Regions from separate parts of the Homo sapiens genome. Here all the other regions are linked to region 3. The links come from fine-mapping of genetic effects on gene expression. A gene starts in region 3. Each other region holds a variant in brackets. All regions are shown on one strand. Distances are between the middles of the regions.

Region 1 (7,469 bases), 200 kb after region 3:
AATTATTCTTCTGTAAAAAAACGAAGAAAAGGCTTCTACACTATCTCTTCATTTGAGCACTTAAAATTGTCAGAGACTTTTACAATCCTTGCAAATGAAACATAAGGGTCATTTCACCTTGATATAATTTCTTAGTTAAATTTTGAATATTTAAATACAATTTTTCCAGCAAAATATCTGTATCTATAGACAGTTTTCTAAATCCAAATACCAAAATGAAAACACAAAGCAGATCAATTAAAAAAAATAATGTATTAGAATCAGAGGCTATTTGGTATACTGATAAAAAGAAAGTAAGTAACAGAAGTGATTCACTGCACTCCTAAATAACCTTCAGAGACTGTACTGACACAAGGCTTGTCACAAAATACATTAGATGCTGACCCAAGAAGAGGTGGTAGACATACTCCATTATTCTTCAGCATGTACCACTTTTTCAGTACTGTTAAATGTGATTAGAATCACAAGTTTTGATGAATAAAGGAGACAGAGGACATGGTTTTTTCTGTTTTCTTCCGAATATAAATTTGTGTTCAATTTTAAATGACTGATGTAACTCTTTTTACATTAGGGAAAAGACATGTAATTTGGATTTCATTTAATAAATCAAATCATACCACCTTAATGTTCATTAAAATACTAATGAACACAGATGAATATGATCTATACTTCTATATGTCAGGAATACACTACAGAGATTTTGGAGTTTTAAAAAATTATCTATTTTGTTGTTAAATCTTGTTCCACCAAATACTTTGGGAGGTCTAGGCAGGTGAATAGCTTGAGCTTAGGAGTTCAAGACCCGCCTGAGCAACATGGTGAAACCCTGTCTCTACAAAAAATTCAAAAATTAGCCAGGCGTGGTGGTATGTGCTATAGTCCCAGCTACTCGGGAGGCTGAGTTGGGAAGATCACCTGAGCCCAAGAGGTGGAGGTTGCAGCGAGCTGAGATTGTGCCAATGCCCCCCAGCCTGGGCAACAGAATGAGACTGTGTCTTTTGAGACACAGACTCAAACTCGCTCTGTCACCCAGGTTGGAGGGGTGGCGTGATCTCAGCTTACTGCAACCTCCACCTCCCGGGTTCAAACGACTCTCAGGCCTCAGCCTCCCAAGTAGTGGGACTACAGGTGCGCATCACCACATCCGGCTAATTTTTGTATTCTTAGTAAAGACAGGGTTTCACCATGTTGGCCAGGCTGTTCTTGAACTCCTGACCTCAGGTGATCCTCCCGCCTCTGCCTCTCAAAGTGCTGGGATTACAGGCGTGAGCCACCATGCCCAGCCAAGACTCTGTCTTTGGAAAAAAATAAAAAAAAAAAAAAATATTGTTCCTAACTAAGGAGTTCCAGTCCTTCACAAAAAAGAACTGACCCAGAAAAATGGAGACACTACCTCACAGGTAATAAGGTCAGACAAAGCAGTCTGACAAAGTGCCTCTGAATGTTGCTATCAGAGATTGTTGTTCCAGGTCAGACACAGCAGTCTGTCAAAGTGCCTCTGAATGTTGTTATCAGAGAATGTTGCTTCAACCTGAACAATGAAAGCTGTAAGACAAACAACCTGGATACCCTGTTTAAAAATGGTGATAATGTAGGCATGGGGGCAAAGCAATGCAAAAAAAGACCTCTGCACTACCATATGTTGAGAATATAAAGAAGTGCTTAATATTCCAGTTAAAAAGCTAAATATTCCATTTAATATTCAGTTAAAAAGAAAATTGATTCCAAATATAATTCCCCTTAAAAGTTGGCATTTTCACTGCAATGTGCAATCTGAACCATCATACTTGTTTTTTTGTTTTGTTATGAGACAAAGTCTTACTCTGACGCCCAGGCTGGAGTGCAGTGGCACAATCCCGGCTCACCGCAAGCTCCGCCTCCAGGGTTCAAGCCATTCTCCTGCCTCAGCCTCCCAAGTAGCTAGGATTACAGGCACCTGCCACTGCAACAGCTAATTTCTGTATTTTTAGTACAGACGGGGTTTCACCATGTTGGCCAGACTGTTCTTGAACTCCTGACATCAAGTGATCTGCCTGCCTCGGCCTCCCGAAGTGTTGAGATTACAGGCATGAACCACGGCGCCTGGCATAATATTTTCCTAAAAAAAAAACACTTTGGCTGGGCACCGTGGCTCACGCCTGTAATCCCAGCACTTTGGGAGGCCAACACAGACAGATCACCTGAGGTCAGGAGTTCAAGAACAGCCTGGGCAACATGGTGAAAACCCATCTCTACTTAAAATACAAAAATTAGCCAGGCGAGGTAGCTTGTGCCTGTAGTCCCAGCTACTCGGGAGGCTGAGGCAGGAGAATCACTTAAACCTCGCAGGCGGAGGCTGCGGTGAGCGGAGATCGCACCACTGCACTCCAGCCTGAGTGACAGAGTGAGACCCTGTCTCAAAAAAAATAAGAAAAAAAGAAAAAAACCACGTCTATGAAACACAAATATCTAATACCACCCTTAAAATTGTATTAACCATGTAATCTCAGCACTTTGGGAGGCCGAAGGCAGGAGGATCACCTGAGGTCAGGAGTTCGAGACCAGCCTGGCCAACATGGTGAATCCCCGTCTCAACCAAAAATACAATTAGCTGGACATGGTGGGATGTGCCTGTAATCCCAGCTACTTGGGAGGCTGACGCAGGAGAACTGCTTGAACCCAGGAGGCAGAGGTTGCAGTGGGCCAAGATTGCACTACTGAACTCCAGCCTGGGCGACAGAGCAAGACTCTGTCTCAAAAAATAATAATAAATAAATAAAACTACTTACCCAGATTTCAATCCTAATAATACATTTAATTTTCCATTAGTTTCCACATCACGATCCCTAAAGCTATTTCCTAGGATACTTTAAAATCTATAGAATAAATAAAAAAGAAGAATGAGATAGTTAATCTAAAAAACAAAGGACAAATATTATAAAGGGTCAGCACTCACCATCTGTCTCAATGACATCATCAAGGTGTTATGGCTGCTTGGTTTCACACAAATCCTATATTAGAAAACCCTGACAATCCGATATCAACTTGTCATTTTCCCTTATAGAAGAATGCAAATAAACAGAGTGTGAGCCAGGAAAAGCTAATTCCTAATTAGTGCCCACTGCATTCAACTCTAGCCCTCTTTTTTTGTTTGTTTTTTAAGACAGAGACTTGCTCTGTTGCCCCTGGAGTGCAGTTGCGTGATTTTGGCTCACTGCAACCTCCGCCTTCTGTGTTCAAGCGATTCTCCTGCCTCAGCCTCCCAAGTAGCTGAGATTACAGGTGCCCGCCACCACAATCAGCTAATTTTTGTATTTTTAGTAGAGAGGGGGTTTCACCATGTTGGCCAGGCTCGTCTCAAGCTCCTGACCTCAGGTGATCCGTCCACCTTGGCCTCCCAAAGTGCTGGGATTACAGGTGTGAGCCACCATGCCTGGCCAACTCTAGCCCTCTTAACTTCCAAGTTAAGAAATGCTTTGTAAAATCATAGAAACTCCACCATTGAGACCGGCACGGGCACCACTGAGACTGGGCACTTGAGACCAGCCTGGTCAATATGGTGAAACCCCATGTCTACTGAAAATATAAAAATTAGCCGGGCGTGGTGGCACACGCCTGTAGTACCAGCTACTCGGGAGGCTGAGGCAGGAGAATTGCTTGAAACTGGGAGGCAAACCTTGCAGTGAGCCGAGGTCTTGCCACTGTACTCTAACCTGGGTGACAGAGTGAGCCTCCGTCAGAAAGAAAGAGAAGGCGGGGGGGGGGGAGGGAGAGAGAGAGGGAAGGAGAAAGAAGAGAAAAGAGAAGGGAGGAGAAGGGAGGGGAAGGGAGGGGAGGGGAGGAGAGGACAAGAAAAGAAAAGAAAAGAAAAGAAAAGAAAAGAAAAGAAAAGAAAAGAAAAGAAAA[G/GA]AAAAGAAAAGAAAAGAAAAAGAAAAGAAAAAAAATCCGCTATTGTTCCTCACAGTAATCCACTAACAGTGGCAGTCCTGTTCCTTGGGGAAGCCTCATATAGATTACAGATTCCCTCATTCTTCCTACCACTTGAGGAAGAGCAAGCTGATGAGCCAGAAGATGTGTGATCATGCTCTCATGCCCTTTTCTCCCAGAGGTAAGGTATATTTAGTGACATTCTGTTGTTATTACTATAGTAAGAAATCTCTTCGCAAAGTATTTGATAATTTAAAATTGTAAACTAAAACCACTTCATATTCATTGTCTTAATCACCATAAGAATCTCAAGATGAAGATGTGGCAAGTAAAACTATAAGAGGTTAAATAACATACAAGCTCATAATCTTCATAAAGAAAGCTGAGAGTAAAACCCATGTCAGCTGACCACTAACCCAAGTTTTCTTTTCACAGCGGTAAAAGACCAACATAAATAAACAGAAATACTATTTCTAAAGAGTTTATCTGGAGCTCTTTAGAGTAAATCTGAATATCATCAGTTTTAAGAGACAGAGTCTCACTTTGTCACTCAGGCTGGAGTGCACTGGTGCAATCAGATCTCACTGCAGCCTCAAGCTCCTGGGCTCAAGCCATCCTCCTGCCTCAGCCTCCCAAGTAGCTGGGACTACAAATGTGCACCACCATGCCCAGCTTATTTAAAAAATTCTTATAAGATGGAGTTTCACCATGTTGCCCAGGTTGCTCTTGAACTCTTAGCCTCAAGAAATTATTCCATCTCAGCCTCCCAAAGTACTGGGATTACAGGCATGAGCCACCATTCTCAGCCCTTGATTTGGATCTTAATGATTTGTTTTGTTGTTGTTGCCTGGCTGTTTTTGAAACTTTTCAGATAAAATTTAAGTAGGCACCGCTAAGATAGACCTAGATATAGTGGCATCATTTCAAGGAAGCTTAAGGGCTGACTACACATGCTACATTAGCCACTACAAACTTTAAACATTTTGAATAATCAAATATCTTTCTGCTCCTTAGATTTTTTTTTTTTTTTTTTTTTTTTTGAGATAGAGTTTCGCTCTTGTTACCCAGACTTGAGTGCAATGGTGCAATCTCAGCTCACCGCAACCTCTGCCTCCTGGGTTCAAGCGATCCTCCTACCTCAGCCTCCCAAGTAGCTGGGATTACAGGCATGTGCCACCATGCCCAGTTAACTTTCTGTTTTTAGTAGAGACAGGGTTTACTCCATGTTGGTCTGGCTGGTCTTGAACTCTCAACCTCAGGTGATCCACCCGCCTCAGCCTCCCAAAGTGCTGGGATTACAGGTGTCGTGAGCCACTGCACCCAGCCTTTAGTTTAATTCTTCATCTTGTGTAGTATGAAAGATTATTGTTTCACTTTATGAAGATGTGAGAATGAGCAAATATGTTTTCTTCATCCCAAGAGGCCCCTTGTTTATGGTAAAAAAACAAAAAATATATTTCTATTACCATTCTACAAGCTGGTAGATACCACTTTACCACCTGCCTAACAGATCTAGCCAGCCCAACAGGGAGAAGATGGTACTGTATACACCAATGTAAAGGAGCAAAATAAGAGATTCACTGAAGAGACTTGCTGCACTAAGGCAAATACAGACATCTTAGGAAACAGTGCTGTAAGCAATTATATACTAGCTATATCCTGTATTTTTCTTTAAACCATTTCTCATTCTTAGACATAAGATCAAGAAAAGTGAGGGTGACAAAAAAAATAGAGCTTCAACTAAACCTTGAAAAAATAACACTTGCATATACACGGTATGAGAAAATGGTGGAGGAATGAACAAAACACATTGCAGGCTGAGATAATGACTAGAGTAGATGCAAAAACAAGAAATACATTAAGTATATAGGTTGAGGCCAGGTGTGCTGGCTCACGCCTGTAATACCAGCACTTTCAGAGGCAGGGATGGGAGGATCCCTTGAGTCAGGGAGTTCAAGACCAGCCTGGGCAACATAGTGAGACCACCATCTCTAATTTAAAAAAAAAAATTAAATGTAGGCCAGGCGCAGTGGCTCACGCCTATAATCCCAGCACTTTGGGAGGTCAAGGCAGGTGGATCACTTGAGGTCAGGAGTTTAAGACCAGCCTGGACAACATAGTGAAACCACGTCTCTACTAAAAATACAAAAATTAGCCGGATGTGGTCTCACAAACATTTTGTACCAGTAGCTCAGGTTCACTGCGGAGAAGCTGGACTGAATGATGACTGCAAGATTTTTTTACTCCTTGACAACTGTTCTAATTATCCTTCAGCTGAAATTCTCATTACAGGCATGCACCTGTAGTCCCTGTAGTCCCAGCTACTTGAGAGGCTGAGGCAGGAGAAATGCTTGAACCCAGGAGGCGGAGGTTGCAGTGAGCTGAGATAGCGCCACTGCACTCCAGCCTGGGTGACAGAGTGAGACTTCATTTCAATAAATAAATAATAAGTAAATTACACATATATAGGTTGGGCATCCCTAATCTGAAAATCTGATGTCTGAGCACCAAAATGACACCACATGTGGGAATTTCCACACCTGACCTCATGTGACAATTCACAGACAAAATGCAGGCATACAAACACACAGTTTATTCAGCAACCCTGAGGGAAAAAAAGACCCTCTCAGCCCCCTTTAGCTGCAATATATCTTTTCTGAATACGCCCAGATTACCCCACACATGTGTGCACATAAAGTTGGCCAAAATGGCACATACACAGGCAGGACATGACAATGGCAGGCTCCACATGGAGCCAAGACCTATGTGCATTGCTCACTGTGTGTGTGTGGTTTTTTGTTTTTTTACTTATTCTCTGCTCTGTGGTGTAAAGATACTATTGAAAATGTCAAAAAGTCCTTCAGATATTCCTACGGGTAACGGTTATTAAAAAGAGAGAAGGCATTTATGTTTATATCACAGAAAGTCAAGTTGTTAGAGAAACTGGAGAGCAGTGTAACTGTAACATGTCTTACAAAACAGTATGGTGCTGGCATGACCACCATATATTAATATAACGTGAAGAAACAAAAGGATAGGCCAGGCGCAGTGGCTCACCCCTGTAATCCCAGCACTTTGGGAGGCCAAGGCAGGTGGATCATCTGAGGTCAGGAGTTTGAGACTAGCCTGGCCAACATGGTGAAGCTCCATCTCTACTAAAAATACAAAAATTGGCTGGGCGTGGTGGCAGGCACCTGAAATCCCAGCTACTTGGGAGGCTGAGGCAGGAGAATCGCTTGAACCCAGGAGATGGAGGTTGCAGTGAGTTGAAATCGCGCCACTGCACTCCAGCCTGGGCGAAAAGAGCAAGACTCCATCTTAAAAAAAAAGTAGAAGAAACAAAAGACAGTTAGTTACATGCTGAAATTCATAAACAGAAGTTAGTGAGAAATGCTGTACAAAGCTAAAAATGAAGATTTCAACTGTGTATTAAAAGAATGAATCCAACAGTGTCACAGTGAACAAATGCCACTTAATGGTATTCTGATCATGACACAAGCAAATATCCATCCGGATGAGCTGAAAAACTGAAGGGAACTATAAATACTCAATAGGTGGGTTGCACA
Region 2 (7,469 bases), 350 kb after region 3:
TCTTCCATAACCTCACTTAGTAGATACAAACACTTCTTTCAAAAATAAATTAATCTCCAGTTTATTCAGACCATTTTGAGGACTGAAAGAGGTAAAAATCAGGAGAGAAAACAAACCCCCAAAACAAGGTAGTAAGACACACAGGGAGGAAGAGACAAACAGGAGCTGGAGGAAGTGGAAGAGAGGAGAAGAGAACCTACGGCAGAGAAAGAACTGTAGGTTTCCCTTGGATTAAAGACTCTTCAAAGCTGCATGGAGAGGGAGGGAAATTCCAAGTTTTTGTTCTTTTACATCCTCATCTAGATGTATGACGAACTCACTGTACAGTACATTCCAAAGCTACAAGTACATTTCAAAATTATATGCCTTTCATTTTATTTTTGGCTATATAGTAAGTCCCCACTTAATGTTGTGGATAGGTTCTTGGAAACCGCAACTAAATGAAAGGAGTACAGAAGGTTCTCCAAAGTTGTTTCAATCAACCTCATTTCCTTACGACATTGATGAGGAAAAAAAAATTGGTTTCATTATACATTGTTTCACTTTTTAAGTAGACGTTTCCAAGAACTTACCAAGACATTAAGGACTTAACTATTCACTGATGTGTTCTAGAGACAAGTAAATAATCAGAAAGTACTTAAACATTCTTGGTTAAATGTCAGTATAATATTTTAATAATATTGTGGTTAAGACAGCAAATGAGCCAGGCATGGTGGCTGACACCTGTAATCCCAGCACTTTGGGAAGCTGAGGCAGGCGGATCACCTGAAGTCAGGAGTTCAAGACCAGCCTGGACAACATGGCGAAACCTAGTCTGTACTAAAAATACAAAACTTAGCTGGACACAGTGGCATACACCTGTAGTCCTAGCTACTCAGGAGGCTGAGGCAGGAGAATCGCTTGAACTCAGGAGGCCAAGGTAGCAGTGAGCTGACATCGCGCCACTGCACTCCAGCCTGGGTGATAGAGCAAGACTTCATCTCAAAAAAAAGAAAAAAAAGAGAGAGAGAGAGACCCCAAACTTGAGCTACATTGCCTGACTTCTAATCCTAGCTCCACCATTTACTAGCTGTGTTACCATGCAAATCACTTGATCTCTCTGTGCTTTCTTATCTATGAAATGGGAATAATTCCTATATAAAGAAGCTGCTGTGCGTGGGGATCACATAATGAACACATAATATATGCATAGAACATAGTTGAGCAAAGGAAGCACTCAATTAACTATTGCTAAGAAAGGTCAGTAACAGCCCGTTTGCTTTTTTAAGAAATCAATGAAATGCTTCCTAATTTTTGAAAAATTAAATCTGTAATTACTATGTATGGTTAATCTAATCAATCATGACCATTTTGAAAAATCTCCAAATAACTCTAGTCTAAATAATTATCATCATAAAGGAACTCATCTCAAATTATAACTATAAAATCTAATGTAAAGTAACTATATGTCAATCAAAATAGTCTTTAAAATTGGTCAACTGGATTGTTCATTATTCATCATGAAAACAAGTAATTATCTGAGAAATTTACTAATTTTAGTTCCTCCATGAAAACCAATAGAATTTCAAGAGGATAAAACACCATTGTCAGTTACAGATAAAGTATGATAGATTAAAACAATCCAGACATTTCTACAAAGTATTTACCACAAAACATACCATAACATTAGTTTCCAAGTGAGCGGTTGCATAAGTCTAGATCAGAAAGTCTTAGCCTTCGCACTAGTAACATTTTAGGAAACATAAGTTTTGGAGGGGGAGGCTATCCTCTGTGCATTTTAGGAAGCTGAGCAGCACCCCTGCCTCTGCGCATTAGATTTCAGCAGTACCTACCTCCCCAACTCTCACCCTCCATGTGACAACCAAATGTGTCTCCAGACATTGTCAAATGACAATTGCTCTACTTTGTGAGAAAATTTTTGTTTATAACAAAGTAGCATTATAATAACAACCAACTTTCTCCCATCCCTCCCCCTTTTGCCATTTTTTGAAAACTTCACAAAAAGATGGATTATCTTCCCCAAATGCATTTTAGTATCTTGATTATACTTGCAAATGATATTGCTGCTGGCATCTATTTTATACTTACCTGATTCTCTGCAGAACCCAAAATAATGTAATTCATTTCTCAATAATGTATGTATACATTTTAACTGTGATTCATTTTTAATTTGTCCTTTCTTCATTAGGATTAAAAATTTTAATATCTTAAACCAGACACATTATGTTGCCAATCACTAGCACAGTACTTCAGTAAATGCACTAATACTTCTCAGCATGTCATAACTACTAAGCCTCTAATAAGCATTTAGCATGAATTATATCATTTAGTCCTAACAATAATCTGAATACATATTATCTCTACTTTTTCAGGTGAGGAAACTGAAGCTAAGAAAGAATAACATGCCTAAGTTATGAACATGACTTCACAGTGATAGGAAGTGACAGAACCAGGACTGGATTGCAAGCTTCCAAAGGCAGTGTTTATATTCACTAGCTGGGCATGGTGGCTCACTCCTGTAATCCCAGCACCTTGGGATGGATGGATGGATGGATGGATGGATGGATGGATGGATGGATGGATGGATAGATAGATAGATAGATAGATAGATAGATAGATAAGATAGATAGATAAGACAGACAGATAAAAATAAAAAAATTCACAACACCAGAATGATCCTAAGAACCACCATTTCAAAAACTCATAATGGACTTCGTATTTTTTGAGATCATACTGCTTTCCTCATTGAATAATTTTCAGTATGTAACTTCTAGTGTATGTAACTTTTCCAAATATATCCCTTTTCACGCTATTTATACCCTCCCACTTCAGAGCAAGCACAGCACTTATTTGAACTTCAATAGTGGCCTTTGTGATAGGATAATTTGTAGCTGAACTTGAGATTTTGTTAAAAAAATGGAGTTGAAAACATAAGATCTTGATGATCAAACCAATAAAAGCAGTGACAACCCTACTTTTACTGTCTCTTAACTTAAAAAAAAAGGCAAGAATAGATGTTTTACTGTCTCTTAACTTAAAAAAAATTGGCACTATCCATGCCAATTTATATATCTATCTAAAATTGATTATAATAAGTACTGTACATTTAATTTCTATTGAGCTTTGATTATGAGATATTAATGACATATTTCTGACAATGGCCAGACTCAAATAGAAAATAGAGGGGGGGAATAAAAGGAAGGAAGGAAACACTCACCTTTCCTCAGTTTTCCCGATTCCACTACTGCAAGGCCCTAGAGGCTCCAAAGGACACTAGAGCAAGCTAGGGTTCATGCTGCTCTCCCCTCCCCTAATTCACTGGAGGAGTGAATTAGGATTTGGCATTATGGGTTTAAAAAAAAAAGAAATCCAGAAATAGATGTAAACCCACTAAAGGGATGGTAACAACACTAGCCTCATAAAGATTAAAATAAATAATTTATTTATAAATTAAATTATAAATTTAATTAAATATTTAAAATGATTAAATAAAAAATTCAAAACAACTAGCACAGTGCCAGGCATATAAGTGCAGAGTAAATGCTAAGTGTTCATTGCTTTTTGTTTGTCTGTTTTTGAAATGAAACGCTACTAGAAAAACTTTTAAAACACAGATGAGAGTATCTATGGCTCTTCCTGAAATACTTACTGTGCTCTCCTCTTTCTATACCTATTCTTTCAAAATCCCCTTGCTATCAGGTTGTGCTCAGAGAATGCAAGCCTTTCTTACAGTCTCCATTTCTACCTCACAAGTCTTTATTCAGACAAAACAGCAGCAGGGAGAAAAAAAAGAAAAGAAAGAGAAAAGATCCCCTCTCCCCTTCAATGCTTTGTTTCTTTTTTTCTAAGCATGTGTGACAGTTTGATGTAGAATAATGAGTGACATCGTATCCTAGAAATAAAATTCTCAAAATTAACAAAGAGGTATTAAAAATAAATCCAAATTTACTCCATTTTGAGTTAGGAGAACTCATATTTGGAAAAGCATCACTGTGCATGTTTCATTTCCAGGACTGGGATTTGAAAGCAGTGCCTGGGGACCTTTGGCACAACATCCAGCACAGGGTAATTTTAAATAACAGTGCTATATGAATGAACTAATATTTTCCTTTATCTAACCAGCAATTAAATCTATTAACTTACTTAGTAAATACTTGCAAAGGGCCTACTGTATGCCAGGTACTGTTGCCTTGTACAGGGATCCAAAAGTGAACAGGACATATATGGCCTCTGTTCCCACCAAGTTGACAGCACAGTAGGGACAAGACAAATAAAACGGCCTATATAATTTAGTATCACAAAGTGAGAAGTCCAACAGAAGATATTAAATGGATGGATGGCAGCACACAGAAGGGGCAACTAATCCAGGATTGGGGTCAGGGAAGTAGTCAGAAAATAAGTGATAGACGTGACAAAGCCTGAAGAATGAATGAAAGTCAGCCAAAGACGTGGAGAAGGGGAAAGTAAAGGGCTTCAAGCAATTGTAAAAAAAAAAAAAAAA[AAAAAAAAAAAAAAAC/A]AAAAAACAGAAAACTTGAGAGAGCATGCCACATGTGAGGAAGTTTGAGAAATTCATTAGAGTATGACTGAAGCTTAGCACGTTTAAGGGACAGCAGGGGCAGGGGAGATTGGGAGACAGAAGAAGCATGGATAGAGCGAGTGCTGAGAGCTGAAGGTGGATATGTTAGCAGGGACCAACTGACCATGACCTGGTAAAAAGCACTTTGTGAAGCTGTATTTTAGACTAAAGGAAACTGAAGGCATTTAAGGACTTTAAGCAAGGAAGCAAAGGAATCAGCATTTAGAATAACTAATCTACCTGTGGCACGGAAAATGGATAGAAATAATTCAGTCTATTGAAATAAGCTTAATTTATCTCTTCCTGTAACTTTAATCCTTCCTCCTCTAATGGTACCTTACTATGGGCAATTAAAAATGTTTATATCTCTCTCATCTAAAAAAACAACAAACCCACCCACTCCCTTAACTGCATATCACCCTGCAGTTACCATTCTGTCTCTTAACTTACAGTACATTTCTTGAAAAGTGAACTGCATGACTTTCTCCAAATAACTCCAAATAACTCTGCATGGCTTACTCCTCACTTTCCTCAGAAATCTACTCTAATATTACCCTAAAATGGGGCTCTCTGAGCACTTTACATAAAATAGCACCACCTTCCACACCTGTGGCATTCCCTACCCCTTATCATCATCAGACACTATGGCCAAGGCGCTACACTAAGTACCTTACATGATTTCTATCATTAACAGTAATGATACGGATGAATAAAGTGAGGCTTAAAAGCTAACTTGCCAAAGGTCACAACATTTGCTAAATGCTGAAGCCAGAACTCAGATTTAGGTAAGTTCATGGTTGGCATCACAAAATTGAAGGAGGACAAAGATAATAGCTTCTATTTTACTTTCTGTTTGAAAAGAAGACAAGGTCATCTGTTAAGAATAAGAGGAAGGTATGATATAGGAAGTCTGAAGAGAATAAAGGAGATCTAAAATAGCCCCATGAAAAATGGGAGAATGGACTAGGAAGTATTAAAGGACTACCAGGCAAAATTAAGGACCCAGTTGAAATTACAAAATATGGATTTATAGTGACAATGACCTGTGTCATTTTTCATCAGGACCAAAGATGAAGGGGCAAGTAAAGCATATAGACAGTGATTCTCAACACAGGAGGGCTGGGGTGAACAATTTTCTCCCCTTGGGACATTTGGCAATGTCTGGAAACAATTTTGTTTGTCACAATCTGCAGGAAAAGAGTTGCTACTGGCATGCAGTGGATAGAGGCTAGGATGCTGCTAAACATCCTATAATGCCAAGGACAGCACTCTAGAACAAAGAATTATTTGGATCCAAAATGTCAATAGTGCTGATGCTGAGAAACACTGACTGATCCAGGTTGGCAGATTTCCTAGGCACATCAATGGGAAGACAAAGGGACAAGAAAGTTAAAAGACACTGATCAGAGTTAAGGTGATAGACCACGAAGGTGGGTAAGGCAAAGATTTAGTATGTGAGAGGCCTGACAGATCAATGAGGGGGACAAAGTGGCCTCTGTGTTTGAAATGTTCAAATGGCTGACATGTCATCAATGAGTGATCACTCTTAGGACATTACTACATTCATCGGGAATAATGTGATAGACTTTGCAGTTTTCAACTCTGAGTGACAGAGAAGAAACTATCGTTTACTGTGAAGTTGTATGAACCAACCAGGATGCTAGTTCACATTTGTTATTTCATTTATTCCTCATGTAATACTTCTAAGAAAGGTATATTATTCCAATTTCATAAATGAAGACACTGCGACACAGAGAGGTGAAAGTTAAGTGTATATGGTCATACGATGTGGATGACAGAGCTGGGATTCACCCCAGAATGAGTGAATCTCCAAATTCACACTTTCTGAACCAAAACGCAGGAGCCATGACTTACAAAAAAATGGGGTGGGAGAAGAGACTGGCCCATATGTTTACAGACATCTGTTTGCACACAAAGTACACACAGCCTCAGTACTTTATAGTCACGGCATAGATTTATGTATGCAAATACCTCTACTTCAAAGGAAGGCCCTCCTAATATGTGCCCTTATTTCAAACAAAGTGGTGATCCATCAGACCAGAAGACTTTAACCATGTGGAGCCTCCCTACAACTGGGAAAATAGTATTTGTAAATATTTTTAAAATATCAATGTTCTAAAGCTACCTTTCTTAGATTAAGACCAGTGTGGGAAAAAAATATGGTGCTTCTTTTTCTTAGGTAAAATATAAAACATACATTAGAGAAAAAGAAAAATCAACAAGGCTTTCCTAACGTTTCTTGAAAAACCATTAAGCCCAGGTTCTTTTCAAAATGAGTTGAAAATGAATGTTAAAAAAAAAAAACTGTACTATATTTAAAGATAACACTACTGACACTACACAGCAGGGACATGCTCTCAGCACTCATTATATCCATTTAATTAAAAAGACAGCAATAAAGAGAAAATAAAAATAGTGTTTTATATGACTTATATACGAGTAAGCTGAGATTAACTCTATCTTTCCCATTATTTGGCAACTGAAGATATGTTATAGTATGGCATAAAACAGCCTAATTTTGCTAAGGGAAATTGATAACCTGCAGTGGGTGTTGAGAGGAGCTTGAGGGTGCTGGTAATGTGCTGTTTCTTATTCTGGGTGCTGTTTATATGAGTGTGTTCAGTTTTTAAAAATTCATTGAGATATATCCTTATCACAGTCATGTGTCACATGACATTTTTTGGTCAATGACAGATGGCATATAGGACGATGGTCCCATAAGATTATGCTGGAGCTGAAAAATTCCTATCACCTCATGATGTCATAGCTGGCATTACATCCTAGCAAAACACATTACTCATATGTTTGTGGTGGTGCTGGGGTAAACAAACCTACTGTGTTGCTAGTCATTTAAAAAGTAAAAAATGAGGCC
Region 3 (7,469 bases):
TTCGCCATGTTGGCCAGGCTGGGCTTGAACTCCTGGCCTCAAGTGATCCGCCCACCTCTGCCTCCACCTCCCAAAAGTGCTGAGATTACAGGTGTGAGACACTGTACCCAGCCCCTTCTATTTCTTTCTTTATAGCCTAGGAGTTATTGCTTTTCTCATGTAAATACCTAAACTCTGGCCACACCTTTGTAAAACAGTCCGTTTATTAAACCCTTCTGGGATTATTTTGAGTATGTCATTGATTTGCTTTAGATACAATGCCTCTGGTAGTCTCAATAATGGTCCGAAAGATACCCAGGTCCTAATCTGTGGAAGCTGAGAATGTTACCTCATATGGCAAAGGGACTTTGTAGGTATGATTAAGTTAACCTTGAGATAGGAAGACTATCTTTAACTATTTTGTGGACCAAATGTATTCACAGGGTCCTTACTAGAGGGAGGCAGAAGGATTTTAAGAGGAAATGACATGACAAAAGCAGCAAGAGCTTTGAAGATGCAGTGCTGCTGGCTTTGAAGATGGAAGAAGGGGCTGTGAGTCAAAGGAATGCAAAGAATGTAGCTCCAGAGGCTGGAAAAGAAGGGGGCAAGGCCTTGCTGTATACCTTTGTTTTGGCGCTATGAAATTATTTTGGTCTTGGCCGGGCATGGTGGCTCACGCCTGTAATCACAGCACTTTGGGAGGCCGAGGAGGGTGATTCACGAGGTCAGGAGATCGAGACCATCCTGGCTAACACGGTGAAACCCCGTCTCTACTAAAAATACAAAAAATTAGCCAGGCGAGGTGGCAGGCGCCTGTAGTCCCAGCTATGTGGGAGGCTGAGGCAGGAGAATGGCGTGAACCCCGGGGGTGGAGCCTGCAGTGAGCCAAGATCGAGCCACTGCACTCCAGCCTGGGTGAAAGAGCGAGACTCCGTCTCAAAAAAAAAAAAAAATTATTTTGGTCTTCTAGCCTCCAGAACTGCTAGCCTCCAAATTTCTGTTGTTTTAATCCACTAAATGGGTAGTAACTTCTTACAGCAGTCATAGGAAATTAATACAGTGCCCAAGATAGAACTTTTCATTTTCCATACAAATTAGCTCCTTCCTATTGTTACCAGGGGGTCTTTGTTCTTAGAGCTCCCAAGATGGTGGCAGGCCACTTCCAAGATGGCGGCAAGCCTTTTGTTCTCTGACCTGGGGTTCTTGGCCTCACGGATTCCAAGGAATGGAACCTTGGGCCATGCAGTGAGTGTTATAGCTCTATTAGAAGCCGTGGGTCACAGAAGAGAACCGTGGAACCCAGCAACTAGTGTTCAGCTCGATTAGGACAAACCCTGGGCACTTAGCCTTGCAGGAACAATGGCGAGCCTCTAGCCCGATTGGGAGCAGCAATGGGCGCCTCGCTGGATCAGGAGCACAGTGGACACCCTGATGGATCCAGAGGGGTGGAAGTCAGCGGCGGGTCTGTGATGGCAGCAAACAGCGGTGGTGGACGGTGAGTGAAAGCTCAGCTCAAGCTGTAACAAACATGGACCAGAAGAGTGTGCAGTTGCAAGATTTAATAGAGTGAAAACAGAGCTCCCATACAATGGGAGGGGACCCAAAGGGGGTTGCCACTCCCTGCTCGAATGCCTGGGTTTATATCCTGATCATTGTCCCTCCCCCTGTGCTCTCAGGCGATATATGATTTGACTATTTCTTTACCTTCTGCTTCTAGCCTAATTTGTATTTTAGTGAGCCCTCTTTACTACCTGATTAGTCGGGTGTGAACTGAGTTACAAGCCCTGTGTTTAAATGTGGGTGTGGTCACCTTCCCCAGCTAGGTTTAGGAATTCTTAGTTGGCCTAGGAAATCCAGCTAGTCCTGTCTCTCACTATCTTGTCCACTTGGTTGTTTACTTTTTTATTTTTTTATTTTTAGAGACAGAGTCTCTCTGTGTCACCCAGGCTGGAATGCAGTGGTGTGATTGGTCTCAGCTCACTGCAACCTCTGCCTTCCAGGTTCAAGCAATTCTCCTGCCTCAGTCTCCCCAGTAGCTGGGATTACAGGCACGCGCCACCACACTTGGCTACGTTTTAGTGCTTTTAGTAGAGATGAAGTTTCACCACGTTGGCCAGACCAGTCTCAAACTCCTGGCCTCAAGTGATCTGCTCTCCTTGACCTCCCAAAGAGCTGGGATTACAGGGGTGAGCCAGTGTGCTAGGCCACTTGGTTGTTTAAATACGAGATTTGATTCTTCCATTTTCTGTATGCTTTACTGCCATTCCATCACTAACTCCTCTCAACCTGATGCCCAAAAATATATCTTGAATATATCTACTTCTCTTCCAAGGTTTCCGGCACATGGTAGAAACATGATAACTATGTAATGAGTGGATGCATGACCCAATCTTCCCTACTTCCATTCCAGTCTGAGCGCCCATAATTAGTCAATCAACTAGCTTGTCTTGGTTCTTTTTCCTTAGGCCTTCCACAATCTATTCTTCACATTACAGGGAAATTAATCTTTTCAAAACTGTAAATTAAAGCAGATTATTCTCTAGCTTAATATCCTTTACTTATTTCCCAATGCACTTTGAGTAAAATTCAAATGTTTCATTGTGCACTGCAAGGACACCTATGTTTTGGAAGTTTCCTATCTCTCTGGTATCTTCTTTTGCATCTCTCTGAAATGCTGCAGCTCCCGCCACCCGACCTCCCCGCCTTTAGAGTTGAGGCATAAGACATTTCCTTTGTCGAGAAGGGTCTTTGTTTAACTGGCATTTTAAGGTTTAATCTTAAAGATTACGCCCTTAGCCAGGTGCGGTAGCTCATGCCTATAATCCCATCAGTTTGTGAGGTCCAGGAGGGCGGATCATTGAGCTCACTTGAGCTCAGCAGTTCAAGATCAGCATAGGCAACATGGCGAAACCCCATCTCTACAAAAAATACAAAAATTAACCTGGCCTGAGCACTTGTAGTTCCTAGCTACTTAAGAGACTGAGGTGTGAGGATCGCCTGGGGCAGGGGGCGGGCAGAGGGAGGTTGCAGTGAGTGGAGATTGCGTCAGCAAGACACTTTCTCAAAAAAAATCACGCCCCCCATGAAAGGCTTTCCTTTACCACCCAACTCCACCTTGGTTACTCTATCACAGCTCCCTATGTGTTCCCTTTCCAGCATAAATCACAACTATTTGTCAGTGAATTCCATGACAGAACGAACCTAGCTTTTGTTTGGCACATAATTGTTAAATGAATGCAGTATTATATTTGGCTAGACCAAAATTGTTTCCCTATCAGTTTGTGAGCAACTTGAGGGCAGAGCCCTAAATCATTCGAGTGTGCTGACCTCTAGGGGGGTTAGTCCAGTGCATGGTCTAGAATTGCTCAAATCGGCCTTTTGAAAAAATGAATCATGTACAATGATAAAGGTGTGGACAGGACCACAAGTAACGGTGTAACGATTAGCAGATTTAAGGAAAAGTCAGTCTAAAAGGAAACGTGAGAAGCTAATTGCAGAAGACAGCCATTTCAAGTCTTCAACAGCAAGGCTGTACCTCCTCACGTGACTTCAGTGTAGACTTTAAGAACCTAAACTAACGCTTCTCGCGAGAGGAAAGATTGACCGCTCGCAAGCGTACATCAGCTGGTGCCCCGCCTTCCCTGGGCCCCACCCACTGCCTGTCCTCATTCCCACCTTGAACCAGCCTTTTGCGCGTGTGACGTCATGGCGCCGTGCGTGGCCTCGGCGGTGGCGCAGGGGGCGGGCCCGCGGCGCGGCGCCGGAGGAGGAAGTGGTGAGGTTGTTGCTCCTTCAGCGCCTATCGCTGGCTCTTGGGGCGCAGAGAGGGGCCGCAGTCTCCGCGGCTGCGTCGAGCTCCCTTGCAGTCCCCTCCATGTTCCCCGGCGCCACTACTCCCCTTCCTAAGGCCGCCGCTTACCCCGGGGTCTATGGAAGTAATGGAAGGACCCCTCAACCTGGTGAGTGTCCCACAGAATATAGCGTTCGTCTTGGGTGCCTTTGCCTCAGGAGCCCGGCCCCGTCCCCGGCGCGTCGGCTAACCCTTTAGGCTGGGAGGTTGGTTTGGCAGGAGTGGTCGCAGAGGCTGTGAGGGGCTGCTAGGCAGGCCCTGGCCCAACTGCGGCTCCAGGCTAGCCACTTCAGACTTTGCCCTCCTGGGGGATCCCCGGGAAGTCCTGGCGCCCCCTGTCGCGGGGCCCCGGGCGAGGGGATGCCACCACCTGGGGCTGCCACCTCCTCTCTGGCTGGGGGAAGTCCTCTTAGCGCCACGTAGCCACCTCCCTACAGCCTGGAGAGGCACTGAAGCCGGCCAAGGCAGAAATGGTGTGATACTGGTTTTAAGTTCTAGCAGCAGGGTCTGAGTCTGAGTCGCCCCGCTTTGGAGAGGTGGAGGAGTGAATAGCCTCCTCACCCTCCACTTCCCCCTCCTCACCCTTCACTTCCCCCTCCTCACCCTCCACTTCCCCCTCCTCACCCTCCACTTCCCCCTCATTTCTCACATACATTCACATGCATAAACTGAGTCTACCGTCTTCCAAATATATTAGAGACAGCTGGGAAAAAGACAGCCGTTCCTGTATTTAGCTCAGATTCATCAATTTAGGCATCATGAAAGTGTAATAGGTGTTTGCTGTTCTCAGGAAAATGGCTGATAGCCTGTTTACTTGTGTTTTAAGGCGTTTCAGGTGTTGCAATTAAAAAACAACACAACAGAACCCCACTAACAACGGGAAGCATGAGTTCTTTTCAGACTGGCCATTGCATCTTTTAGTTTTCCAGAGAGGTTACCCATTTTGGATGTAAAAGTCAGATTACTTAAGGTTGCACACAGGAAGAACTTTTGAGTCACAGGTTTGCAATTCATTTGCGATGGTGGAATTGAAAGAAAGCTCTATAGAGGATTCTTTTCTCACATTAGAACTCTGAGTCCTAGAAGAGCAGTAGAGTCAGGTGGTTTAAGACTCTAGGTTTTGAAGCTATGCTGCTTGGATTTGAATTCTAACCTCGTCACTTGATATCTGTGTTACCTTGGGCAAACTACTTGGCTTCACTCGGCTTCAGGTTTTTTGGGAGGATTAAAGGAGTAAATAGGTGTAAAGCACTTAGAACTGTACTAAGTACATAGTACAGTGTAAGAGTTAGCGATTATAACCAGACCATAAGCCCTTAATTTAAAATCTATTTGTAGAATAAAGGTTTGGACTTGAGCTTTAAAAGCCTAAGATTCTCGGACCAAATCACTGGTGCCAGGTTAACTGTTGTGAGGCGCCCCTCCCTTTTAAGTTGGGTCTTGCCCCAGGTGGTAGGTATTTACACTTAAGACGAATTGGACTACATTTGCGAGTTTTTTTTAACCAGGGAACTGGCCAGGCGCCGGGGCTCACGCCTGTAATCCCAGCACTTTGGGAGGCCGAGGCGGGCGAATCACTTGAGCTTAGAAGTTCGAGACCAGCCTGGGCAACATGGCGAAACCCGGTCTCTACAAAAAATACAAAAATAGCCTGGCGTGGTGGCGCCCGCCTGTGGTCCCAGCTACTCGGGAGGCTGAGGTGGCAGGATCGCTTGAGCCCAGGAGGTGGAGGTTGCAGTGGGCCGAGATTGTGCCACTGCACTCCAACCTGGGCGACAGAGCGAGACTCTGACTCAAATAACCAGGGAACTGTCTTGCACTTTTCTTGTTTTTAAGGCGACATATAGTTGGCAATGAAATACAGTGGATGGCTCAATACTGAAACTTCACAGGAGTATTACTAGAAATAATCAGCTGTTTACGAAGTGCTTCAGAGTTCAGGTGTCCTTGCCAAATGAGCATTGGTTCAGTTCTAGTTAGCTTCACATTATTTGGCTGCAGAATAACCCCCGCCAACTGCCCCACGAATGTGTGATGTTTTAAAAGGAGACTAGAACTGGGTGACAGTTGCAGATAGAACTGCAGAATCACTACCAGTTCAGGAAAAATTAGTTAAATGGTGGCAATACCATTTAAATTCTCCTCCATAAAACGGAGCGAGTTTCGACAGAGTCTTTTTAAGCAGGCTAGCGTAACTCCGTATTTCAGCCATAAAATTTATGTAGGCAAGTATCAGAAATTTGGCATCTTGAATTCTTTTTTTTTTTTTTTTTTGAGATGGAGTCTCTCTCTGTCACCAGACTAGAGTGCAGTGGCGCGATCTCAGCTCACTGCAACCTCCGACTCCCTGGTTTAAGCGATTCTTCTGCCTCAGCCTTCTGAGTAGCTGGGATTTCAGGCACGCGCCGCCACGCCCAGCTAATTTTTGTATTTTTAGTAGAGACGGGGTTTCACCATGTTGGCCAGGATGGTCTCGATCTCCTGACCTCGTGATCCCCCCGCCTGGCCTCCCAAAGTGCTGGGATTACAGGCGTGAGCCAGCGTGCCCGGCGGACACCTTGAATTCTTAAACCATTTGAGTCTTGAAAGATCTAATTTCCAGCATAGTTGTTTATTGGAAGGTAACAGTAGAACAGACGTTGACGGTTACTTGAATGAGTACCAATTACAGGCCTCTGGCACTCAGAATTGTCACTCACAGTTTTATAAGATGAGGTTTTTGAAAATTCAGACTTTTTTTTTTTTTTTTTTTCTTTTTTGAGACGGAGTCTCGCTTTGTCACCCAGGCTAGAGTGCAGTGGTGCGATCTGGGCTCACTGCAGCCTCCACCTCCCGGGTTCAAGCAGTTCTCTGCCTCAGCCTCCTGAGTAGCTGGGATTACAGGCATGCACCACCCTGCCCGGCTATGAAAATTCTGACATTCTTTTATGTCAGTGAACACCTAACTTAGTATCTAGTTGACTCAAGATGAGAGTTCTCAATGCTATAATTTGAATGTCTTTGAAAATTCCACTAGTATTATACAAGCTTTTTCTTTTTCTATACTCAGAGAGTTACTAATGCAATAAGCTTTGTCAAATGACGTCGTAGTGTAGTCCAAATTCATTGTATAAGGACTTATCACAGTACATGGATTTGTAATCATGTGTCCTCAGAGCATCCTCGGAACTTAGTAAGGTGTGTTTTCCAGTTTTACAGATAAATAAGCCTAAGCTGAGAGAATTAGGTAATTACTTAGGTCAGTAACTTAAATACATTATGAATCACGAGTTATTTTGATATCAAGACCTCTTTCTAGCAATGCTGCCATATTGTACTCATCATGTTCATTTCAGTATGGTTCTCATCTATATTGAACTGTAGATTCTGTGTTAGCATTTATTACCTCTGCTCCAGTATTGATTCTTTTATGTTAGGTTTGGCAGTAAGGGCCTTAGAAATTCCTCACAGTGAATTTTTAAGATCTGGAAGAGACTAGTTTGAAATATTCATTTTAATATGTACCACAGAGGTAATGGATTCTAATTATCTGGTTATTGAAGTTTGTCAAAAGAAAAATTGTACTTCCACTGAAGAAAAAAATAGCTAGTCTTTGCACTCTGAATAACTTTGTTTCATTAGGGTTTTTTGGTCAATTTTT
Region 4 (7,469 bases), 130 kb after region 3:
TGAGTAAAAAGAAATCTATAATATATCCATTTAATTCAACCTAAACTCTAAATATACAAATGAAGGCCAGGTGTGGTGGCTCACGCCTGTAATCCCAGCACTTTGGGAGGCCGAGGCGGGCAGACCACTTGAGGTCAGGAGTTCGAGACCAGTCTGGCCAACATTGTGAAACCCCATCTCTATTAAAAATACAAAAATTAGCTGGGCGTGGTGGTGTGTGCCTGTCATCCCAGCTGCTCTGGAGGCTGAGGCAGGAGCATTGCTTGAACCCAGGAGGCGGAAGTTGCAGTGAACCAAGAACGTGCCACTGCATTCCAGCCTGGGTGAAAGAGTGAGACTCCATCACGGAAAAAAAAAAAAAAAAAAATACACATACACACACACACACACACACACACACACACACACACACACACACACACAATTCTGTGAGCTTTACTTATACCTGAAAAAATTAACTGGTAATTTCAACAATCTTAAAAAATATTTAGCTTAATACTTTTGATGAGTTTCTTCACATAATTAAAAGCTAATAGTCAACTGGAAAATGTTTTCCTAATTAAATGTATTTGTATTTAAATTGCAATAATGGAGAACTGAAATTTATATATAAAATCATTCAATTACTGACAATCTAAAAAAATTTCCCCTTTAAAAAAAGAACTATTATGCTAAACTGATAGGTATACATAAACACTAATCTCATTTAATTATATTAATTTACCCAATTCTTAACGTTTAGCATTGAAGACAATTTATACTAATATTTAACCAATTATTTTCTAATAATGATTATTTAGAATGTCAGATACTTTATTTTGTTTACTTCTGTATTCCTTGCAACAGAACACTGCCTGGCTCATAGTAGGTTCTCAGTATATATTGTTAATTGAATTAATAAATCGTTTATCCTATAAGCAAAATCAACTGACTGCATTCATTGGGTTTTTCACACAACTAGAAGTTAGATGAAATGATATTTAAAGAATATTGTTTAAAGAATGTCTGAATATCAATAAAGTTTAATTAACCTTTAATTTTAAAAAGTAATCTAAAATTTCTTACCTGGTAGGGCTGAAAGGCACTATCTTCAGTTAAAAAATCCAGTTGCTTATCTACAAGGAATTCTACTGCAGTGACTGAACTGGGTATATTTCTTTCAACCAGAGGTTTGAAAGTCTGCCAAGAAAAAAAAAATTTCTAATGATAATTTTCTGGGTAGTATCCTGAAATTATGAAGGAACACACACCAATACAATGTATCAATGTCATTATCACTACAGAGTCTTAGGGTACCTAATATTAATTTTCATATTATAAACTAATGCTTTTATCTACACCATAAGGTATCTGTGTTTATTTAAAAGAAACAAACTAGATCTACATGTGATATGGGCATATTTGAGTATACTAAGTCCCAACTGTTTACTTTTAAAAAGGGATGTAATAAAATATGCATGTGTGTAAAAATGTCTGCTTAAAAAGAGAAATTGCTTTTGAAACAGTAAACTGGGTTGTAGAGCTATTTACCCCCACCTTTTTTTTTTAACTGTATTATTTCTTATTAAAGAGAGTAGTTATTATTTCAATGTACACTTTTTGTCTAGCTCATTCACATTAAGCAGGATTTTAAATGATCAGGAAGTATCTGGTCTTTTAACTCCACCCCTTGCACTCCCACCCCCGCCCCTGCACCAAGCACAGATAAAAATCCCGCAGCTTCGGTGAGAGAAGCATGGAGGAAGGGAGTAGAGAGAGTCCGGTAAGAAGTACTACACAAAACTCTACTTTGCAGTCAAGTCCAAATCTCCACTACTTCTTTTAAAAAAAGTCAATCCAAGGTCATTTGATTCCTTTAAGAAGATACCTTTAACATATGAGATTTAACTCGTATCTTGGGTGGGGATGACAGGGACAGAGCCAGGGTAGGAAGAGGAAGGAAACAGGGATACAATGTATAAATTTCTTTATGACTATCACACTCACTTTCAAAGTAGATGAAGATTAAATAAAATACAAGTGTCTTATATTCATGGTACTGTTCTAAAAACTTGAAAATGAAAACAAAATTCCACCATTTTAAAAACACAGCTGCTTTACTATAAAAAAATTTTTTAACTGGAAAAAAGTTCGGAAAACAGAATTAATAATCAACTCAATTTCTAAGTTACCTATATCACATGGAGAAATCTTTCTAGCTACAGGGTAATTTGTGTTAATATTTCCACACAAAACAAAGATTTTGGCATAGACAGTACAAATTACCAGGCATTTCAAAATCATTGTGTTTCCCCTTTCTCTTATTCTGTCTTAAAAAATATATAACATTTTGTTAATAACAATAAACATACTCCAGGGAAAAACTTCAAGATGTTTGGTTTGGAGTGGCTTTTAAGGAGTTAATTTCTATATTTAAGAAATTCCTAAGAGGAATTTCAGGTTGACTCACTGCAATCTGTAACAATGTTTCAAAGTTAAAAATTTAATATTAAATTTAAGCAAGTCTTATTTCTATGCTATCTACATCATGAAGTTACAAATAATATTTTCTTAATTAAAAAACAGGAAAAACTCTCTTATATTCTCACTTATTTTCGATATTTAAGATCAGAAAATCTAGTCACAGTAATATCCTCTCTCCCATATCCTAGGCTAACCTTTTAAGCACTCTATTATTTATCAAAATTACTATTATTTGGGTGAGAAATCACATTTTCAAAATAGAAAATCCTCACATTATTTAGCTATTTCCTTCTACTGTTATCATTTAACACTTTTCAATTACATAAAATCCTATAGGATTTCATAAAATCCTATTTATTATTTTACTTAAGTGACAAAAAGTTTGTAAGAAATTCAAGAGCATTTATTGTATTTAGGCTTTAAAAGTGTCCACCACTACGTGACCAATTGACATGAAATATGTAACATAAACAGGGATATTCGGCTGATCCCTACTGTAAAAAATGTTTTTTCATATTATATCTCTGTCAGTTTAGTTTTTAAGTAAACTAGAAAACACTGGCATCTTCTCAAGAGGACTTTTAATCCTTGAACATTATCAAATGATCTATTTCTTTTCAAACAGTACCATATCAGGTCAACTCATGAAGGTTAACAAAAAGGTCCACAAAAGGTATTATCTAAGTGGCTAAAGATACAATTCAATTAAGTAGGATTTGAAAAAGAAGTAAAGTTCTCCTTCTGGAGTGCCTCTTTCTTACGCAAATAATACAGGTGGCTTGCATTTCCTATGAGACCTAGTCATTTTATAATATGAAAAACATTCTTCTGAAGAGAGCTCTCCTTTTCAAGGTAGGCCAGAGTTCTAAGGGTAAATTTCAACAAGCCGACCAATGATTTAAATTATTCTAAGTTAATTTGAAAAAAGGATTTCTAAGCTAAAAAAATTCTCACGTTTTAAGATGTCTCATTGAAAGCCAAGTAAAATTTGGCTACCAGAAATCTAAGAAAACTAGCTGACAATGATCAAATTTGAATACTCTTACAAG[G/C]ACATGAGTACTTATAATCATTTACAAGTGGAAGTCCAAAGTATATCATGCTTCTTAAATAGCAAATAAAAAGTGCTGATAAATACTTTTATAGTATTTGTTAAAAGAAATGTTTCAATATTTATTAAATGAGAAACAGTGAATATGTGTGACTGCTCTACTTTAAGGAAAAATGAAAGGCAAACAACATATGAAGTGATATTAAAATACACCCCGGTTTTTTTAACTGGCAAAACAACCATGTTAAGTATTGCTAATTTTTGTATTAGTCTAGTACATTTCAAAGGAACATTATAAGTTTAAAAATAATAAAAAACATATTTAAATAAAAACAAATGGGTCCTACAGCTGGTATGATGAAATTTGTAGTAAATAGTTCATGGGTCTAGGTGCACTGGAATGTAAAGAAACTAGAACTCATGCATAACTAATTCAACACTCTAAAGATATATCATTCTATGAGTAACTTCCACAGCCTAAAGGGAAGCAATGAGCTAACATCTGATGAAAGTCACAGTAGAATATGGCCCTAATCACAAAAGACTATCATTCAAATGCTCTAAAAAGCCTTTGAAAACCAAAATGAAAATTACTAACACTAAATGTTCAGTTGAAACAAAATGCTTTTTCAATTTTATTAGAGTGAGAGTTTTTTTTAAGGTCATTTATCAGTGTTAAACATACTTTTTAAAAATAGTCTACGGCCAAAATAAATATAGTTGAGAGCCTGCATTTCTAGTAGGGCCTACCAAACTATAGGAAGAATGCTTAGAACAACTGTATCCTGTTTGGGGCTCCATGCTGCACCACATTCCATTCACATGAGGAAGACGCGAACAGATGAGCCCTCCCCGAAAAACATTTTTAAAATAAATCAGCTACAGCTCTTAAACACAACTCAGCTGCTCAAACAAACGATGTTAAAGCTCACCATTTCACATTTAACAGGAAATTCAAGGAGCTTATGTCTGCAGTCTTAGTTTCTAACAATCTCCGGTTAACAGTTAACAATTCCAAGTTAAAAAAAAAAACAGGCTTATTAACTGCAAAAATACTAATATAAATCTCACCAAAGGTAAATACTAAAGCAGAAAACAACCTAAGCAACATTTTAGAAGTTAAGATTTAGTCTACCAAAAAAAAAAAAAAAAAGGACTGGAGTGACTTGAAAGAACAAAGTCCAAATTCCCACCCAAGCAGGTCTATTGAAAAACACGATACTGTTAGAAAACAAGTTGGGGGTGGGGAAGGGAATAACCAAAAAAAAACCTTACAAAACAAATACCCCCACTTTCCTTGAAACACTAGTCTGAAAATCCTAATTTGAAGCACTTCTGCCATAATACTTTAAACAATTAAACTCGTTTTTTAACATTTACAGTTATTAAATTACTACAAACACAATAAACCTTTTTAAACAAATGAAAGTTAAAAATTCTTAAAACTAAAAACATTGAGGCCAGATCTTTTATAAAAGGCAGTGACCTTAATTTCTCAGGCTGAGAAGAAAAACCAAATGTAAATTAAGACAAAAGAAAAAGGAAGCAGAAAAATACAAACCGTACTTTGTTCTTGAGAATTTTAAAGTATCTTTAAATCTCAGAAATCCACAACAAGGCTTTAAAGGTCAGTAAGTATTTGCTGAAATTTCTATTTTGTTCTGGAAGAGTATCTAGTGTAAATACTTCTTTAGTCTTCAAAAATCACAGGCAAATGGCTCTCAAACCAAGCATTTCTGAGCTCACTTGCAGCGGCGTCATTGTATAGGAAGAAAAGCCAAGACCACAGAACGAAGCAGGAGCTGTAACCTAACAAGTCTCCAACGAGCAAATGACGATTTTCTGTCTGCTCTGGCTCAGCCCTGGCAGTGATGAGGATTACAACTCGCTCTTTGTCATCAGCACTGTGGTGTTAACGACTAAGAAATCCTGCAGCTGAAGCACTACTGCATCCTCCGATCTGGGTCAGGATAATTTCTCTCGAGGTCGCTTACATAACCAGTAAGATACTCCAAATAAAGAGAACAGCCATCCATCAGCTGGAGAAAGCCTTTCCCACTGTACTCTGTCTGCGTGGAAACACAGTGCAGTAGCTTCCAACAGTGCAGACACCCAAATGAGAACGAGTACTTGGCTTAGGGCACACTGAGAGAAGGGAAGAGGCGGTGCTCTGTAAACTGTAACTAATCCCCCGTCACAGGTGCTGATGGAGTCACTTCCAGCACGAGTCACATTACTAGTGATTACTCATTTGGCTGCGGCCATAGAGACTGGCTCATAATTTTAACAACAGACAAAGACAGACTAGTGGCGAGACTGAAAGCTCAAGTTTACTGTCTCCTTCATAAAGCAAATGCAAATACTAAGTTTTTGCTTTCCAGATTTACCAAGGTGAGAAAGTGCAGAAAAGAAATAACATGTGACTATCTCTCAAGTTGGTAAAAATAAAGCATCAAATATACTTTGTATGTTTTTGGGCACGATTTATTTATTAGTATAACCATTTTGCCTTAAAAATATTAAAAACTTCAAAATAAATCAATTTAAAATATTTTTAGACAATGATCTCAACAATCTCATAGGCATTTTACTAAAAAAAAACTGGTAATATTTATTTTGGTAGATTTGAAAATATTCCTCAACCATTTTCACTCATTACAAAAAACAACTTAACCTAGATAGTTCTAAGATACAATTTGAAAGCATAAAATGCATTTCTCAGATGTGTTATATAATATAGTCTCTTAACATCTATCTAAATTCTAGAGTTCTGCTGTCTGATGTTGTCCAATATGGTAGTTACTAATCATATGTAGCAACTGAGCACCTGAAATGTAGTTAATCTGAATTGAGATGTGTGATGTACAAAATACACATTGAATATAAAAAAAATTAAGAGGTATCTCATGAATAATTTTATTTTGATATGCTAATATTTTGACATATTGGGTTAAATAAAATACTGTAAAATTAATACACCTATGTTAAAATTTTGATGTAAAGACAATTTAAAATCACACATGTAGCTCACATTTTATTTCTACTGGACAAGAATGCTCTAATAGTAAGTTCTCTCTCTATTTTTTGGAGGACGTAGTCTTGCTCTGTTACCCAGGCTGGAGCGCAGTGGCATGATCTCAACTCACTGCAACCTCTGCCTCCTGGGTTCAAGCGATTCTCCTCCCTCAGCCTCCCAAGTAGCTGGCATTACAGGGACGCACCACCAAGCCCAGCTAATTTTTGTATTTTTAGTAGAGACAGGGTCTCACCACATTGGCCAGGCTTGTCTCAAAAACTCCTGACCTCAGGCTATCCACCCGCCTCGGCCTCCCAAAGTACTGGGATTACAGGTGTGAGCCACTGTGTCCAGCCTCTTCTTTTTTTTTTTGAGACAGGATTTTGCTCTGTTGCCCAGGCTAGAGTGCAGTGGCGCGATCTTGGCTCACTGCAATCTCTGGCTCCTGGGCTCGAGCGATCCTCCGACCTCAGCCTGCCATGTAGAAGGGACTACAGGTGGGCATCACCATGCCTAGCTAACTCTTTGTATTTTTTGTAGAGACAGGGTTTCACCATGTTGTCCAGAATGGTCTGGAACTCCTGAACTTAAGCGATCCACCCACTTCAGTTTCCTAAAGTGCTGGGATTTCAGGCATGAGTCACCCTGACAGGCCTTATAGTAATTTCTCGTTTCATAGTGGAGACTTACGTGATGATATGAGACTGACTTTGGCTACTCAATAAATCAAAGAGCAGAGATGGAATGGAATATAAATTTGTGGCTCTATGTAAAACATCAGGTTATGTCTATTAATTTGTCAGTATAATTAAATTTTAACCTTTAGAGCATCCAGCGAAAATTTGTAAGTTTCTGACTTAGAGCAGGAAAGCTGGCCATATACTTAAGTCAACCACGCTTCTGTATTACAATTTAATTGAAATGGTTTCAGTTTTATTGTAG

What was found. PIP is the estimated chance that this variant, and not a neighbour inherited with it, causes the effect.
Region 1: its variant is fine-mapped to the expression of NRBF2 in whole blood (INTERVAL, PIP above 0.99).
Region 2: its variant is fine-mapped to the expression of NRBF2 in whole blood (INTERVAL, PIP above 0.99).
Region 4: its variant is fine-mapped to the expression of NRBF2 in whole blood (INTERVAL, PIP above 0.99).

Annotation. Positions count from the first base shown.
Region 1 is chr10:63,333,723-63,341,191 of GRCh38, forward strand. All of the region lies in intron 2 of JMJD1C (jumonji domain containing 1C), which reads right to left. Among named protein-coding and RNA genes, the nearest start is that of MIR1296, 36 kb to the right of the region's middle. The variant G/GA (reference allele first, on the strand shown) is at 3,886.
Region 2 is chr10:63,481,653-63,489,121 of GRCh38, forward strand. It overlaps a transcript of JMJD1C not described here. Among named protein-coding and RNA genes, the nearest start is that of JMJD1C, 19 kb to the left of the region's middle. The variant AAAAAAAAAAAAAAAC/A (reference allele first, on the strand shown) is at 4,502.
Region 3 is chr10:63,129,563-63,137,031 of GRCh38, forward strand. NRBF2 (nuclear receptor binding factor 2) reads left to right here and starts at 3,766. Exons shown (of 4, transcript NM_030759.5): 1 at 3,766-3,938. The coding sequence starts at 3,909. RefSeq lists silencers at 3,583-3,832, 4,043-4,312.
Region 4 is chr10:63,263,586-63,271,054 of GRCh38, forward strand. JMJD1C (jumonji domain containing 1C) reads right to left here. Exons shown (of 26, transcript NM_032776.3): 3 at 1,066-1,179. Among named protein-coding and RNA genes, the nearest start is that of MIR1296, 110 kb to the right of the region's middle. RefSeq lists enhancers at 4,968-5,493, 5,494-6,017, 6,333-6,833, 6,834-7,334. The variant G/C (reference allele first, on the strand shown) is at 3,513.